2 linked regions of the Homo sapiens genome follow. The protein of the gene in region 1 interacts with the protein of each later gene in a biochemical or structural test. Each region holds a gene or a part of one and is shown on either strand. Other genes may lie near its edges. The genes, in order: PARPBP and RAD51.

Evidence for each region.
Region 2: the proteins of PARPBP (region 1) and RAD51 form a complex in vitro, tested with the Homo sapiens proteins (one study listed by BioGRID).

The regions. Positions count from the first base shown.
Region 1 is NC_000012.12:102,193,100-102,195,851, reverse strand, and holds part of PARPBP (PCNA-interacting partner), read right to left. Parts: intron 541-2,752; coding exon 405-540; intron 1-404. UniProt on the Homo sapiens protein: Required to suppress inappropriate homologous recombination, thereby playing a central role DNA repair and in the maintenance of genomic stability.
Region 2 is NC_000015.10:40,712,147-40,715,979, reverse strand, and holds part of RAD51 (DNA repair protein RAD51 homolog 1), read right to left. Parts: intron 1-3,833.

The sequences.
Region 1 (2,752 bases):
CAAATTTTTAAAGTAAAATAATGCTATAAATAATATGATTGACAAATATAGCTACATTACTATCCTATTACTTTTCATTTTATCATAGCACCTCTGAGTTAGCTTTGGCCAGTAATCAACTTGTCAGCCCTATTAAGAAATATTTGTTTGAATGCATGACATTTAATCCTTAAACATATGCTACAAATTACTTCTTAAATACATTTAGTTAAATCAAACTGTGTCCTATTCCTATCGATAAATTTGTACTTAGATTTAACTTTTTAAATAAACTGAGGTCTTTAAAAATATTACCCTTTACATTTCATAGTACTTTGCAAAAATAACCTAATTTTACTTAAGTTAAAACTAATTAGTAGACTAGAATTAAATTGTTATTTAATTGCACAAATAAGGTCAATTACCAGAAAGGTCATTTTCCATGTAAAGAACACACAAAGGCTTTGATGCTAAATTAACATTATTCCAATTATCCTTGCTTATCATGTAGTCATCTTTATAAGTACAAGCAAATTGGGATCTAATTAAAGTTTGCTTCATCTAGTAACAGAAAGAAAGAAGAAAATATGCAAATTTATTCATTATTTTATTTCTTCATCTAGATAGACACACACTCTATAGTAATCAAGGTATAAAAATTTCCCTTAGAAATTCTATTACTCATTGAGAACCTCTCTCTAACCTTTTATATTTCATAGTTTGCAAACTCATTCATTGTTATGGCTAGCATTTTTGTTCTTTTCCAAAATAATAGCTTTATGTATATTTTTGATTTTTTTTTTGGTAACAGTTACAAAACAATCAATTTTAGACTCTTCGCAGGGCTTTGTTACATGTTCCTGTGTCAGCACTGCTTTGGAGCGTCTTATTGTAAGTAAAATAACAATACAGGTGATATACATAATCATAGAAAAATACAAGTTCTTCATCCTAAGAAGAACACACTCTTGGAAAAAAAATAGCATATGGAATTCAAGAAATTAGGGAGGGAAGAAATGCTAAGATGAAAAAAAGAACTAAGTGAGGTCAATCAAAAACAGGAAACTAGCAAAGAAACTGCAAGATAAAACAAAATGATATAGGAAAGACATTATTTCTCGAGTATTTAGGAAAACAAGAAAGATGATTCAATGTATCAGTCTAGAAAGATTTGACCAAGTGACTTAATGGTCAGAAATCCAAAGTATACTCTTGCATTTATCTTCAAACATCAAATAGGAGGGCCTAACTTTCTACATAAATAGGAGAAAATTACAAAGATGAACTCAATTCTTGATCACTGAAAAGGATGCCAAAAAAAGTAGTTTTGGAAATTTGTTCCACAAACATAAACCAGTGAGCTATTGGGGATAGAAATTAATTTTAGAACAAAGTAGCCTATACAAATAATGCCAATTTCAACAATTACAAATGATGTGTAATACCATTCAGGTTTAATGGAGAGATGTCTCCAAATAATTAGAAGTCACCTGAAATCATTTTCTGACATAGACAAAGTTTCAAATACATAATTCAATAAAGATGACTTCAGTAATTCAAAAATGTAACACTTCGAGTATAACTACATTACCCTGATTATTACTTACAGAGTATTTGTTGATACAGTCATGAAATCTAAAACAGCATGACTTTATATATTCAGTAGTTATATATTATATGTTCAAAGATCGATGCATTAATTCACTCAGATGTTTGTAAAGACAATGGCAGTGAAATCTACTGACTATGACTTAGAAAAAGTTAGAATATTCGTCTGTCCAGCTGCTTCATAAAAGCAAGTTTTCCTAGGATGACAAATTTTCTATCTTTCTGACTAATGAGGTCTGTGACAGTCTCCATCTCCCAGATCACTAAAAATTATGTTTCATGTGCTTACATGAAGCATTAGACAATTGGAGTTTTATCTTCCATTTAAGCATAAAATGCACAAAACTGAAAATAAACGTGAAAATATACAAGATCAAAAACTATTTTTTTAAAAGTTGAACAGAATGGACTCACAACCCACTACCTTCATGAATCCCTATGAATGCAACACTTATTAAATAGCTTCTACCTCAAGATGCCCTATATGTAACTGAAGATTTTAAGTAGCTCTTTCTGGACTTTATTAATCCTATAACTACAGATTTAAAGCAGTAGATAAACCTATTTAAATAAGTTTTATTAATAAAATTGACTCTATATTATACTACATAATAGTAGCATTATCCATGAACTTTTATTTCCATCTGCAAAACCAGTACTAACTGTTGACATTATCTTATCACACATTATTTTCACTTCACAAAAGTTATGGCTTATAGAGAATTATAAACTTATTGCTTATAAAGAGTTATAAAGAGTATAGTAAGACCACGCAGGCAAATAGATGCTGAGTGGCTGGCTTGGATCACTCTTTGTAACCCAATAGTGATGGCACCTAGAGTTAGCTTGGGAGATGTTAGCTTCTCACTGCAAAACTCTCATGAGCACCACCCATAAAATATTCTAAATAAAAACATAATACTAAATAATAATTATATTATTTAGTACAGAAAACTAATGTTTCTTCAATCTCATGTTTAGCACAAACAAAAATTTCTTTAGAATGTTTTGTTACTTTTATTAATTTTTAACATATAGTCTAGGTAAAAAAATCTTTGCTTGCTATGCAAATAGTCACAAAATAAGCGCAATAGCTCTCCTTACAACTAGATTTCCTCAATTCAGCCTCCCCCACAGACAAATTCTAAACTCCTCAGAGACCCCA
Region 2 (3,833 bases), on another chromosome or scaffold:
AACAAAAGAGGGTCATGCCTAAAGAAAGACTTGGAACCAGTGGCCAAGAGGACAGAGAGCAGAATCTGCCTCAGTTTCTTGGAGAGGAGGAAATATTAACACTCTGGGGACTAAGTCCCCAGGAAATAAGATGAACGAAGTTCTCCTTTCTCCTACCTCCAGGTAATATTAAGTGCTAACATGACAGGGGATTCTTTTCCAATTGAATAGACTTCCTTGGCAAAGGAAAGGCCACAGATGATTGGGAATAGGTAGGTAGACTGACAACAGGATAGTGGACAAGCTCCCAGGGTAAGATCATGGGGATGGATTGCATGCTCTGTTCTCCAGCTTATTTGGCCCTTTCTACCTTGCCCTCCCAGTGCCATCATAGCCATCTTCTGTTACTGGATTGGGATACCATCAGGTTAGCTCTTCTTAATAACTGCTTAGGAGCATAATTTAACACTTCTCATTTTATAGTGATGCAGTATGTTTCTAACTTTTACCATTTTAATTATGCTTTGGTATAAATTATTTGTACATTTATCTTTGCATATATGTGAAATGTTCTGTAAGACAAATTTTCTGTCAAAGGGTATGTGATTTTTTTGTTTTGTGGTTTTTTGGTTTTTGGTTTTTTTTTGAGACAGAATCTTACTCTGTTGCCCAGGCTGGAGTGCAGTGGCACGATCTCAGCTCACTGCAACCTCCACTTCCCAGGTTCAAGCAATTCTCTGCCTCAGCCTCCCAAGTAGCTGGGATTACAGGCGCCCACCCCCACGCCTGGCTAATTTTTGTATTTTTAGTAGAGACAGGGTTGCACCATCTTGGCCAGGCTGTTCTTGAACTCCTGACCTTGTGATCCATCCACCTCAGCCTCCCAAAGTGCTGGGATTACAGGCGTGAGCCACCATGCCCGCATGGGCATGTGCTTTTAAAACTGGTACTTATGTTAAATTGTCTTCTCAGAACTGTTTTTATTTTTTAATTGAAATGGGATCTCGCCATATTCCCCAGTCTTGTCTGGAACTCCTGGGTTCAAGCAATCCTCCGGCCTCAGCCTCCCAAAGTGCTGGAATTACAAGCATGAGCCACCATACCCGGCCCAGAATTTTAAAACTACTGCAGTACTTTGAACAAGCATGGGCTAATTCATTTTGTAACCTAACTGTAGCTCTCAACTTTATGACTTTTCTATTAGAGAGAGACCTAACATATAATGGGGTTTTACTTCATTAAATTGAGAAAACAAATGAGAGTAGATAATATTTAGATTTAAGTAATAGTCTAACATCCTCTCTATATCCCTGGTTCCAGCTCTTAGGCTGATGAAATGTAATCTTTTCTATTATTAATTAATTAGCATTCTTTTTCTTTAAAAAAAGTCAACGATCTATATAGTTGTTCAGCCATCTGTAAATGTTATTTTAACAGGCTATATTTACTTGAGAATTTTGCTTTAGTTTATTGTTGACAGACATTATCTGACTACTTAAACATTCTCAGATTAGGATTCTATTTGTACAACTTTGGAGTGTCAGCATGCTATGCTGAGTTGCCATGGCAACTATAGATATTATGTACTGTAGTCTAAATACTTATTCTACATAAGTCCCTGTCAAAACATGGGAAAACATTTCTATTTAAAAAGGTCACATATCATGTCAAATGACGGATGTAAGAGTGACATTTTAAACAGCCCTAATTCCCTTTAGCTATCAAATTTCTAATGGAGCTCACGCAATAGCTATAGCTTCTATAACTTACTCTTCCTCTTCTCAATGTTTCCTCCCTTATTATCATAAAAGGTCTCCTAAGCATCCTCCTCCACCCCTCCCCCTCAGCTCTTTCTTCCTAATGATTATGAGGATCTGGGTGCAGAGGCATTCACCTGTAATCCCAGCTATGTGGGAGGCTGAGGTTGGAGGATTGCTTGCGCTCAGGAGTTCAAGAACAGCCGGTGCAACATAGTGAGACCCAATCTCAAAAAAAAAAAAAAAAAAGAATTTATTTCTGAGGAGAGTTAACAATGGATTAGGTCTACTCGATACTGACATGCTAGCTTGGCTGTCTCATAAGACATATGGCAGCCAGCCAGGCACGGTGGCTCACACCTGTAATCCCAGCATTTTGAGAGACCAAGGTGGGCGGATCACAAGGTCAGGAGATCGAGACCATCCTGGCTAATACGGTGAAAACCTGTCTCTACTAAAAATACAAAAAATTAGCCAGGCGTGGTGGCGGGCGCCTGTAGTCCCAGCTACTCGGGAGGCTGAGGCAGGAAAATGGCGTGAACCCAGGAGGCGGAGCTTGCAGTGAGCAGAGATGGCACCACTGCACTCCAGCCCAGGCGACAGAATGAGACTCCGCCTCAAAAAAAAAAAAAAAAATTGTAACATTTTGGTCTGCAAAGAAAATATCAGTGGAGCAATAAACAATTAAAATGACAACAAAAAGCCGGGCATGGTGGCTCACACCTGTAATCCCAGCACTTTGGGAGGCTGAGGCGGGTGGATCACCTGAGGTCAGGAGTTCAAGACCAGCCTGGCCAACACAGCAAGACCTTGTCTCTACTAAAAATACAAAAAATTAGCTGTGTTGGGTGGCAGGCACCTGTAATCCCAGTTTGGGAGGCTGAGGCTGGAGAACTGCTTGAACCCAGGAGATGGAGGTTGCAGTGAGCCAAGATTGCGCCACTGCACTCCTGCCTAGGCGACAGAGACTCCGTCTCAAATAAAAAAAAAAAAAAAAAGGAAAATAAGAAAAATGGGAGGCTATCAAGCTAGGTTACTTGATGTTAAATTTAAATAAACTTGGGCCAGGCACGGTGGCTCACTCCTGTAATCCCAGCACTTTGGGAGGCCAAGGCGGGCAGATTAACTTGAGGTCAGGAGTTTGAGACCAGCCTGGCCAACATGGTGAAACCTCGTCTCTACTAAAAATACAAAAATTAGCTGGACGTGGTGGCCGTCATGCCTGTAATCCCAGCTATTCGGGAGGCTGAGGCAGGAGAATGGCTTGAACCTGGGAGGCAGAGGTTGCAGCAAGCCAAGATCACACCACTGCACTACAGCCTGGGCAACAGAGCAAGACTCTTTCTCAAAAAAAAAAAAAAAAAAAGAAAAGAAAAGAAAAAAAAACTCAACAGAGTTGAGTCCCGAGGATAGAAAAACACTAGGAAGCCTCTTCTGTAACACTGATATAAGGCAGATTTTGTTTCAGTTGTTTTGATCTCCAACAGTAAGTTGTGCCCATGGCAGAAGTGGGTATAATCTATCTAGATTAAAATAATGCCATGTTTTTCAAAATAACTAAAATTATAATAAAGCTTCAAAAGATTATAACAGAAGAGTTGGTCCATGGGCATGGGCCAGGTTCAAGGATACTTTGTGGACTGGCCACTTATGCAGCACATCCTTAAAGCCAGAGAACATTAAGACTCACTTAGACAAGGAAAAACGGCTCCCCATTACACTGCCTGAAGTTGCAGAAAAGATGAAAGTTTGTTAGCTTTCTCTTCTATATCCTACTCCCTTCCTTTCTCATGGATCTTTCGTTTCCAGATTCCATTTTTACTTCTCTGTGTGACTTAGTTCCACATCTCTCAATACAGCTAGAAATTTTCACTCGGGGTTTGTCACCTCAAACCTGTCATCTCTAAACCTGTACTCATGTTTCCAACAAAACTGTCTTCCCCTCTCAAACACTTTTTAGGTTTACTAAGTTACTGTAATACATTGTTGGGCTGAGGTGTATTTTTTATTGTCAGTCATCAAGCGCTGCCCTTTACAACATCTTTTCCCTACTTCTCTTTATTGTCACTATCTTAGTTTCCTGACCAGCTAATGCTT